Linked DNA regions of Homo sapiens. The protein of the gene in region 1 purifies or fractionates together with the protein of each later gene. This does not show direct contact. Each region holds a gene or a part of one and is shown in the gene's direction. Other genes may lie near its edges. The genes, in order: COX20, UQCC2 and UQCC1.

What was found.
Region 2: the proteins of COX20 (region 1) and UQCC2 purify together in Homo sapiens (affinity purification with mass spectrometry; 3 studies listed by BioGRID and IntAct, with this or other methods). This does not show direct contact.
Region 3: the proteins of COX20 (region 1) and UQCC1 purify together in Homo sapiens (affinity purification with mass spectrometry; 3 studies listed by BioGRID and IntAct, with this or other methods). This does not show direct contact.

Annotation. Positions count from the first base shown.
Region 1 is NC_000001.11:244,838,506-244,842,257, forward strand, and holds part of COX20 (cytochrome c oxidase assembly protein COX20, mitochondrial), read left to right. Parts: intron 1-3,438; coding exon 3,439-3,553; intron 3,554-3,689; coding exon 3,690-3,752. UniProt on the Homo sapiens protein: Essential for the assembly of the mitochondrial respiratory chain complex IV (CIV), also known as cytochrome c oxidase.
Region 2 is NC_000006.12:33,704,949-33,708,700, reverse strand, and holds part of UQCC2 (ubiquinol-cytochrome c reductase complex assembly factor 2), read left to right. Parts: intron 1-3,752.
Region 3 is NC_000020.11:35,405,265-35,409,016, reverse strand, and holds part of UQCC1 (ubiquinol-cytochrome c reductase complex assembly factor 1), read left to right. Parts: intron 1-3,752. UniProt on the Homo sapiens protein: Required for the assembly of the ubiquinol-cytochrome c reductase complex (mitochondrial respiratory chain complex III or cytochrome b-c1 complex). Involved in cytochrome b translation and/or stability.

The DNA of each region.
Region 1 (3,752 bases):
TAGAAAACCAGGAGACGTATTTGAAGCCAAGTAAAAGTAAAAAAGTTTCAAAAACAAATGATAATTTGTGCCACATATGCTGAGATGCGGATTTAGACTGCAGTGGATGTCTTTTAGAGGTCTTGACTGGTGTCAAGTGAAGTTCAGTGGATAGATGCCTCACTCAAGTGAGTTAAAGGGAGAATGGGAGGTTTTAAGTAGAAAAGCACACCTACACTCAGAAGTTTTGCCCCAAAAGGATGGTGGTTTAGGTGGCTGATGAGAGGAGAGGGGTGTATAGAGGATTTTTGGGTTTTTTTTTTGAGATGGAGTCTTCTTGCTCTGTTGCCCAGGCTGGAGTGCAGTGGTGCCATCTTGGCTCACTGCAACCTCCGCCTCCTGGGCTCAAGCGATTCTGCCTCAGCCTCCCGAGTAGCTGGGATTACAGGCATGTGCTACCATTCCTGGCTAATTTTTGTACTTTTAGTAGAGACAGGGTTTTGCCATGTTGGCCAGGCTGGTCTCGAACTTCCGACCTCAAGTGATCCACCCACTTTGGCCTCCCAAAGTGCTGGGATGACGGGTGAGCCACTGCACCTGGCCAAGAGGGCTGATAGTAAATTATTGCAAGTGAAAAAACTAACGATGCAAATGAAAGGGGTAGCTATAGAAGCCAAGCCCTTGAGTATGCAAGAGGGGAATCAAGTGCCCAAGTGGGAAGACTAGCATTAGATAGGAATAGGGCCAATTCATCCTTTGCAACCAGAGGAAAGAAATACGGGCACTGAAGCAGATTTAGTGGTGGAAAATCAACTGTCTCTAATTTGATCAGATCTATTTCTATACATTATTGACATTCTGGCTTGGAAATCTCTTGAGCTTTCCTTAGATTGATCAGGGTGAGCTGGTAAAGCTGCTTTTCTAAATCTAAGCTTAAAAAATGTCTGACATTTCCTTAATTTATTTTTAAGGGTTCCCGTTTGTTAGTGGCAAAGAGTTAAATCTTAAGTATGCAGGCTACTTAAGGAATAGAAGAGAAATGTTAAAGGCATGTATATTATGAACAGAATATTTCCGTATATAAATAGAATACTTCAAAGGGAGTTATGCCCGGGATCCTTTATTCATCTCCACTTCTGAGCATTTTACAGTTCAGTGTACTTAACTGTAAAGGTATACAGGCTCAAGTCGTTGCATATTCTTCCTGTTTTGATAGAAATTGCAGGGATTTATGTACTGAATCTTATTACTCCTTAGATATGTGACAACTGGAAAGCTCCCCACCAAACCCTCCAGCCTTGGTTACTTCTTAATGATGTGGTTTGGCACAATGAAAATGTCATAGGCTTTGTGGTGAAACTGACTTCTGCCTCCACTCCTGCCAACACTTATTATTAGCCTCTTAAGTCCCCGAGCCTGTTTCAGAGGTAATCTCACACAAAGGCTAGAGAATTAAAAAACATGTAGAGAGCCTGGCACTAATACCTACCTCCCCCACCAGCAGCTCTTAATTATGAGATCAACCACTATTATTTTAGACCAGAGTTTTGTTGGGGATTGGGTTTGTTTCAGAAGGCACTATTTTAAATAAGATGTGTAGCTTCTATTTAGATATTTGCCTTTAAAGTCAGCTGAGCTATTTTCCTATTGTTTGCAAATTTACTTTTATTTAAAAAAATAAAATTTCCTAAAGCAGTGTTTCCCCAATATGACAGTCATCAGAAAAAACCACCTAGAGTTTTCTAAACATAGATTCCAGTGATTGTAAATCAGAATCTGAGAGTGGGACTAGAAAATACTTAATTCTATCCTGTGGTACAAGCTGGTCTCACACTTGCATCTTTGCACCTAAGACTAGATCAAACTGGTACTAATCCTCTGGCCCCAGCATCCCATCCTTGGGGAAATAGTCTAGTTTAGAGGTAGTCCTGGACTGGAGCGCTAAGTCCAGCATTCCTCACCTGCATAACACTACCCACATGATCATATGTCCCCTGGGCTCTCAAGCTGATAGGAAAAAGTCGTCTTGCTAAATGAAATCCCCCAACCTCTTGGTAATGTGAAGAACTGTACTGCAAAGCTTTGAAGCAATCCTATGTTAGGCATGCGGGTGGGAACGGGGCCAGACAGAGGGAAAAAATGGAATAGAATGATCCGAGAGTAAATAATTCTTGCTTTATTATGAACCAAGTCACATTTTGTCTCTTCCAACAGATGCTTGAGCCAAAAAAGCAAACATAGGCAGAAATACAATTGAGAATATCTTCATGTTTCAACCTTTAATCTGACTTGCCTTTTACTATCCTTTCCCCATTTCTTCTAATCTCTTTTGCCTTACAATATATTACCTTCTAGGTATCACCTCATCCTATAGAATCCCTTCTAGTTTAATGTCCTGCCCCAAACAATACTAACCCATTGAAGATAACTATGAAACCTTTAAATGGACAGTGGTTCCTTTTAAAAGCAGCCTTACTGAAAATTTTATATACACTTAAATCAAGTAACAGTTACCGTGAGTTTTCTAAACTTTTGTGTTAACAGAAATGCCAGTTCAGCAGTGTGACTGTTACTTTTAAATGTCTGTCTTGCCGCCCTAGAGTGACAGACATCCCAGTTAAACATATTAGGAATAAGAAATACATAAATCCAATGAAGACTGTAGAAAAAGAATTTTAGCACTTGAAGGAACTTCAGTCATTTAACCCAACCCATTCATGTTATAGATTGAGACCATAGAAATAAAAGTAGCCTATAGGATACAAAAGTTAGCGGCAGATCTGAGATAAAAATCCAGCTCTTTGGATCCCCGCGTTTTTCACCACACTTAGCTGTCGTTCCCATGTATTACGAACAAAGAATCAAATATAATCAAGTGCAGCCTCACTTCACAGGCAAGAAAACAGACTAGAGTTTAATATATTGCCCATGTTTATCTTAAGGTGAAACATTTACTCTTACAACCACAGTTGATGTTAACCTAGTTAATAAAATATGAAAGGTAATTACTAGGGGAATTTTAAACGGCACTACATAAGCAAACATGACTCAAATTACTTTTTCCATTTCTGCTTCCCAAATTATTGGAGTTACTGAAGCAAGCTATGCTGCTTTCAATTCCAATGATAGGCATATTCCCAAATAAACTCATTTAAAGAGCTCATAAAATGAATTATCCTATTTCCAAGTCAGTTGATTAGCAAATTAAGATACAGCTCCAAGTTACCCTACTGCTTAAGGGTTTTCCGGTCCAATTTGTAAGGTTTTCGGATTTAAAGATTCAGACTGCATACCAAAGGTGGACAAAGACAACGCAAGCTGATTTAGGTTGTCACGTGGCACATACTCTAGTTTAAACCCTCAACTACAAGAAAAGAAATGGTGTATTGTCATTTTTGCCAAAGCACCCCAAAATGAAATACTTTCTTACTCAATCTAGGTTCTTTTTTTTCATTCTAGTCCCTTAAGCTCCTAGGATTTTTAGATGTTGAAAATACTCCCTGCGCCCGGCATTCAATATTGTATGGTTCATTAGGATCTGTTGTGGCTGGCTTTGGACATTTTTTGTTCACTAGTGAGTATCTGTATTTTTTATTTCTCTATGTACTAAAAAAAGCATTTCTCTACATAATGAACTATTTTTTTTTCTAGGTGGAGTAATGTATATAACGTAATTATATTCTAATTAATTGTTATGCTTATTTTTACAGGTAGAATTAGAAGATCATGTGATGTTGGAGTAGGAGGGTTTATCTTGGTGACTTTGGGATGCT
Region 2 (3,752 bases), on another chromosome or scaffold:
GCAGCAGGAGGTGGGGCTTAGATCCAGTTGACTGACTAGTATGGAGCTCCTCCTTGGTTAAGCCGGTTGCCAGAAGACAGAACTGGAGGGGAAAGTAGCTCTGCTCATGCCGTCTTTCCATTTCCGTAGAGGAGAGAGGCAGTCAGTCCTCCTCTCAGCCTCTTGGCTTCCTTCGTCCTAATGATCACCCTGAAAGGTGCACAGTGCACCTTTGCCGGCGTGATCTCATTTAATCCTTAGTACAGCTGAGTGGTAGCCATTACTGTTCCCATTTTACAGATGAGGAAACATCAGAAAAACAAGACAACGCACTGGGGGTTCCGTAGCCATAAGAGACAAGCCAAGTGAGAAACAGACCCAGCCCCTCTGGCCCTAGTGTGCATCGTCTCCTGGGTGCCTGGCCTTTCCTCAGCTGCTGTTCCAAGTTATTGTTAGAACAACCTCTTATTCCATGAACGTCAAACCACTTCCTTCCCCTGGTTGCCCGTTCAAACCTTTTTGGGCCATAGATAGTTTGGGCAGCAAATGGAACTCCCTGTGTTTACCCACCTATTCTTTGCCCCAGCCACTACCAGTCCAGATGGGAAGAAAGATGGTCCTGGGTGGGACACCAGGCGGAGAAAAGCTGGGTTAACTAAAGGGCAAATCAATAATTCATACACAAAACCAGAGTACAAAAACCACTGCCTCCATTTATTCCACCTCAAATTGCCCTCTGGGGAGTCTTGTGGTCCACCCTAAACCCACCAAGTGGGGAGGTGGTGGTGGGAGCGGGAACACATGTAACTCCTCTTACACCCCATATCCTATTGTGTAGTTTTAAAAAGTCAGTGTTTATGGGCTTTGCCAATTTTGAATACAGTTTGTCTAAGAACACGTGTTTCCTACAGCGCTGAGAGCTTAATAAAAGAATTGCAACGTGGGGGAAGGTGGCACAACAAATGTAATTGTTGACCTAACAACAGAGAAAGGAGCAGATCTTTCTAATGAGTTCATTAGGTGCTTCCTAAAAGATCCCGGACTGCACACCAGCACCCACTTATGTAGCACAAGGTGCAACTCCGAGGGGCGTCCTAGAAGAGCTGCTGCTCTTCGCCCACCAGGGAGTTCTAACTGTATTGTATGCAAGTTTAAGTATAATAATATTGGCCCAGTTTGAAAGAAGTTAAACTTTTTCTTGGGTTTCTAATAAGGTAAATGGTATTTCCACCTTCTCAGAGGAGAATTCAAAGGTTTTTTTGATTCTGTTTTCTCAGTCATCCATTTGAGGCCTGGTCCTTGGCATTCCTCAGTGTGGCAGGGAGCTAGCTCCCAAGCCACCTGGCATATGCTGGCCACGGTGAAGCCATCTCAACGTTGCTCACCCCCACTTGTGGGCCCCCTGAAGTTATGCTTTTGAAGAGTGTCCTAAGAACAGATTATCCTATTTTTAATTATGTATTGAGCCCATCGAAAACCTGGAGTTGTAAGGAGAATCATCTCTAAGAGGGAATACAAACATCTCCATCTTTTTTTCTCTCCCAATTCTGAATGGCGCCAGTGTGAGCTAGGGTAGTATTCACACCAAGGGGTGGCGTTTATCTCTGCATATGTAAAGCTGCAGTGCTCCACCTGAAGGGATAAATTCTTGGCCACTTCTGGTGGGTCACTACTTTATTCAAAGATGTTTGGGGTCTGCCCATTGCCTCCTGGGCAGGTGGCAGGCAACTTTGTGAGACCTGCAGTGCCTCTGATCCTTGGTCCCAGCCTGTGTTTCCAACCTTGCCTCGCACCACCCTAACATGAGCCCCAGGCTCAGCAAGGGTGTCTTCTCATGGTCTCCCAAACTGGCCATGGTACAAGCAATTCTGATCCTTTGAGACTTAAGTGCGCTGTGGATCACTGCACCCCTACAACCGCAAAAAACCCAAACACAGAGTTTGTCAAGAATTTGGTGGCTTCCCAGGCTCTTGGAGCCCTCCCTGGGTTCCCCTTAAAAGCCCTGTCTGCCTAAAACACTCTTGTCCTGTGCCTCTTCATGCCTCATCCTCCCAGTCATTTCTGGTCCCTGTGTCACTCATGCCCAGGTTGGCACTCCTCACTCTCTGCACTGTCGCTGCAGTGAAACTCAGCCCTTTCCTGCCACACCTCCCCATCAGCACAGCCAGGTGCCCAACTCCCACCTCGGGTCTCGTGCAGCGGCCCGTGCTCCGCAGATCTGGCTCTCACTTACACATTGCCCCGGGCAGGGTTGGTTTCTAATTCATGTGTATCTTGTCTCTGTAGTGTGCCTGCCAGCTTCTCCACAGCTGGCCTGGGTCGTCGTCTTTGTGGCCCCTCACCGTCCCCTAGTGGAGCACTCTTTCTATAGTAGGTGCTCAAGAAATACATTTTCAACTCAATTGAAGGGAATAGGCTCCCATAACAGAATGAACTCATTTCAGAAGTTCATTACCAAGTCTTGAAAACCTTTTTTTATAGATCCTCCTGGACCGAATCCAGCTCTACCTTAATTAGCAAAGCAATTTGCAACACCCTTTCCCAAAAGTGCTTATGCGTCCCTTTGTGTGACTAGAATAGGGGCCGCTGTACCAATTGCTGTCACCACCCAAAATTCAATTTGCAAAATCGAAATCAGTGCCTGCAGCACTGATGTAGATTTGTATGTATAAAAGTTTAATATGGTAAAGAGAAATTTACTGACGACTGAACAGGGGAAATGCAAAAGGAGCAAAAATAGAGCTATAAAGGACACTCGTCAGATGAACATCTATTTTATTCACATTTGGGGAGCAGTGCTGAATTTTTCATAATGTCCCCACTGCTGCCTTTTCAAACCCAGCACTGCTATTAGTCCTAAAACGTCTGTGATCTCATTAGGTGTGAATGCAAAATCAGGTAATTTAAAGCATGTATTAAGAATATTTCTAAAAATGCACCGTCCATTTCATCAGAAAAACTGCATTTCAGAGCTCAGGAATGTTAGTGCTGGAGTCTGTGAATAAAGTGTAAGCTATAGGAACGTGGTGAGGCTTCTGGAATTCGACAGATGTCTCCACTGACATCCTTTTAAGTAGTAAGCATGACTTTTTTAATTGCTGAGCTTGAGTTATCTGTGGCTAGGAACCCAGCATTGACCAAGGCTTCATCACTCCTCAAGCAGTAAGAACTTGGCTAGAAATGGGCATGTCTCAAACTCCTGTCACCTCCACTGAGCTGCTTTTACAGCCTCAGTTAGACACCTTCTGACCTCAGACGGGAAACTGGATGGCAAGTCTGTTTTAGGACTCAGGTGTTTGGTTTTCTTTCTCAGGTTACAGCTGAGTCCAGGAATTCTGGGAACTCTCTAGGAGACTGTCTCTTTCACACAGGAAGTTTCAGAAGTGAGAGTGGTCGGGTGCGGTGGCTCAAGCCTGTAATCCCAGCACTTTGGGAGGCCGAGGTGGGCGGATCACAAGGTCAGGAGATTGAGACCATCCTGGCTAACACGGTGAAACCCCATCTCTACTAAAAATACAAAAAATTAGCCAGGCGTGGTAGCGGGCGCCTATAGTTCCAGCTACTTGGGAGGCTGAGGCAGGAGAATGGCATGAACCCGGGAGGCGGAGCTTGCAGTGAGCCAAGATTGTGCCAGTGCACTCCAGCCTGGGCGACAGAGTGAGACTCCATCTAAAAAAAAAAAAAAAAAGAAGTGAGAGTACCTGAGGGTCACTTTGCTTTTTGCACTTAGACTTTGTACATTTTGCTCTTATAGGAGCAGCACTCTGCAAGGG
Region 3 (3,752 bases), on another chromosome or scaffold:
TCTACTTTCTGTCTCCGTGAGTTTAACTACTTTGTGTACCTCATATAAGTGGAATCATACAGTATTTGACCTTTTGTGACTGGCTTATTTCATTTAGCGTAATGTCCTCAAGATTCATCCATGTTGTAGCATGTGTCAGAATTTTCTCTTTTTTTTTTTTTGGAGATAGGGTCTCGCTCTGTCATGCGTGCTGAAGTGTAGTGGCTCAATCATAGCTCACTGCAGCCTTGACCTCCTGGGCTCAAGTGATCCTCCCACTTCAGCCTCCTGAGTAGCTGGGACCACAGGCATGTGCCACCACGCCTGGCTACTTTTTTTTTTCTTTTTTGTAGAGATGGGGTCTCCTTATGTTGCCCAGGCTGGCCTTGAACTCCTGGGCTCAAGCAATCCATTGTCTCGGTCTCCCAAAGTGCTGGGACTACAGGCGTGAGCCACTATGTCCAGCCTGTTTAATTTGTTGAGGAATTGTCCTACTGTTTTCCACAGCAGATACACTGTTTTACATTCTCACTAGCAGTGCACAAGGGTTCCAGTTTCACCACATCCTTGCCAACACTTGTTATTTTCTGGTTTTTGTTTGTTTGTTTTTGAGACAAGGTCTTGCTGTGTCATGCAGGCTGGAGTGCAGTGGCCCAATGACAGCTTACTGCAGCCTCCACTTCTGGGCTCAAGTAATCCTCTCATCTTAGCCTCCCGAGTAGCTGGGACTACAGGTGTGTGCCAACACACCCAGCTAGTTTTTAAATTTTTAGTAGAGAGGAGTTCTTGCTATGTTGCCCAGGCTGGTCTCAAATTCCTGAGTTTAAGTGATACTCCTGCCTCAGCCTCTCGAAGTGTTAGGATTACAGGTGTGAACCACCACACGTGGCCTTATATTCTGTTTTTTGACAATTGCCATTCTAATGAGTATGAAATGGTGTCTCATTGTATTATTGATTTACATTTCTCTAGTGACTAGTGATATTGGGCACTTCTTCATGTCTTTTTTCTTTTTGAGACAGAGTTTCACGCGTGTTGCCCAGGCTGGAGTGCAATGGCATGATCTCGGCTCACCGCAACCTCTGCCTCCTGAGTTCAAGTGATTCTCCCGCCTCAGCCTCCCAAGTAGCTGGGATTAGAGACCTGCACCACCACACCTGGCTAATTTTGTATTTTTAGTAGAGATGGGGTTTCCCCATGTTGGTCAGGATGGTCTCAAACTCCCAACCTCAGGTGATCCGCCTGCCTCGGCCTCCCAAAATCCTGGGATTACAGGCGTGAGCCACCACGCCCAGCCTTAAATTTTGTATTTTTAGTAGAGATGGGGTTTTGCTATGTTGGCCAGGCGGGTCTTGAACTCCTGACCTCAGGTGATCCACCCGCCTTGGCCTCCCGAAGTGCAAGGATTACAGGCATGAGCCACTGCATCTGGCAAGTTTTTCATATATTTTGAATATCAATCCCTCATCAGATATATGATTTGCATGTATTTTTCCTATCCTATGGGTTGCTGTTTCAGTCTGTTGATACTATTCTTTGATACACAAAAGTTTTAAATTTTCATGAAGTCCAACTTATTTTTTTTTCTTTTATTGCCCACTCTTTTTTTTTTGACAGGGTCTTGCACTGTCACCCAGGCTAGAGTGCAGTGGCACAATCTAGACTCACTGCAGCCCCTGCCTCCCAGGTTCAAGCAATTCTCCTGCCTCACCCTCCCAAGTAGCTGGGATTACAGTCATGCACCAGCACACCTGGCTAATTTTTATGTTTTTAATAGAGAGGGGGTTTTCCCATGTTGGCCAGGCTGGTCTCAAACTCCTGGCCTCAAGTGATCCGCCCACCTCAGCCTCCCAGAGTGCTGGGGTTACAGGTGTGAGCCACCATGCCTGGCCTATTGCCTACTTTTTTGATATCATGTCCAAGAAATCATTGCAAAATCCAATGTCATGAAGCCATTCCCGTAAGTTTTCTTTTGAAAGTTGTATCATTTTAGGTCCTACATTTTGGTCTTTTATCCATTTTGAGCTAATTTGTGTACATGTTACAAGCTTTTACTATATTTTATGAGCTGTTTTCTTAGTGGCTGCCCTGGGATTACAATGAACATCTTAATTCATAACAGTCTTGTTTGGATTAATACGAACTTCATTTCAGTAATATGTAAAGACTTTCTTTCTATATAGCTCTGTTCCTTCCCGAACATTGTGTTATTGTCATCTAAATTACATCTTTATGCATTATATGTCTACCAATGTAGATTTATAATTATTTCTTCTTGTAGTTGTCTTTTAAATTAAAAAGAAAAAGAATTACAAACAAAAAATCCATTTGTACTGTATTTTTTATTTACCTAAACAGTTACCTTTACCAGTCTACTTTATTTCTTCATGTAGATTTGAGTTATTCTGTAGTTTCCTTTCATTTCAACCTGAAGGTCTGCCTTATTCTTGCAGGGCAAGTCTACTACTGACAAATTCTTTCCATTTTGTTTATCTGGGAAATCTTCATTTTTTCCTTCACTTTTGAATAATAGTTTTGCTGGATATAGAATTCTTGTTTGAAAATCTTTGTCTTTCCTTGTTTTGACTATTTTATCCCACTGCCTTCTGGCTGCTACAGTTTCTGAGAAGAAATCCACTGTTAATGTTCTTGAGGATACTTTGTATATGATGAGTTTCTTCTCTTGCTCATTTAAAGAATCTTTGTCTCTTGGCAGCTTGCATATGATGTGTCTGTGGCTCTCTTTGTGTTTATCCTATTTGGAGTTAGTAGAGCTTCTTGGATTCCTAAATTACCATTTTCCATTATGTTTGGGATGTTTTCTGCCATTATTTCTTCAAATATTTTTCGGTCCTTTTCTTTCCTTCTGAGACTCTAATTATACATATATTGGTGTGTTTGATGGTGTCCCACAGTCTGAGGCTGTTAAATTTGTTCTTTTTTTTCTTTTTTTGTTTTTGCTTTTCATTTTGAGGCTACTAATTTGTCTTTATTGCTTTTTCTTTCTGTTCCTTGGACTGGATGATCTAAATTGACCTATCTTCAAGACCACTGATTATTTTCTTCTGCCTGTTCAAATCTGCTGTTCAGTCCCTCTAATGAGTTTTTCATTTTAGTTGTTGGACTTTTCAATTCTAGAATTTATTTTGTCTTTAAAAAAATAACTTCTCTTTCTGTTGATATTCTCTTTGGTGCCATCTTGGCTCACTGCAACCTCCACCTCCCGGGTTCAAGCGATTCTCCCGCCTCAGCCTTCTGAGTAGCTGGGATTACAGGTGCCTGCCACCACGCCCGGCTAATTTTTGTATTTTTAGTAGAGATGGGGTTTCACCATGTTGGCCAGGATGGTCTCAAACTCCTGACCTCAGGTGATCCCCCTGCCTTGGCCTCCCAAAGTGCTGGGATTACAGGTGTAAGCCACCGCACCCGGCCACTTTCTTATAGTTCTTTAGACATATTTTCATTTAGATCTTTGAACATATTTGAAATAGTTAAAAATCTCTTTGTCTGCTGCCTGGGTTTTCTTAGAGACAGTTTCTATTGATTGCATTTTTTCCCCCTGTGTATGGGCCATACTTTATTGTTTCTTTGCATGTTTTATAACTTTTTGTTGTTGAAAACTGGACATTTTAAATAATGTGGCCACTCCGGAAATCAGATTGTTTCCCTTCCCAGGGTTTGCTGTTGTATTTTTGTTTAGTGACTTTTCTGAATTGATTCTGTAGTCTGTATTCTTTGTTGTTTGTGGCTACTGAAGTCTCTGCTTAGATAGC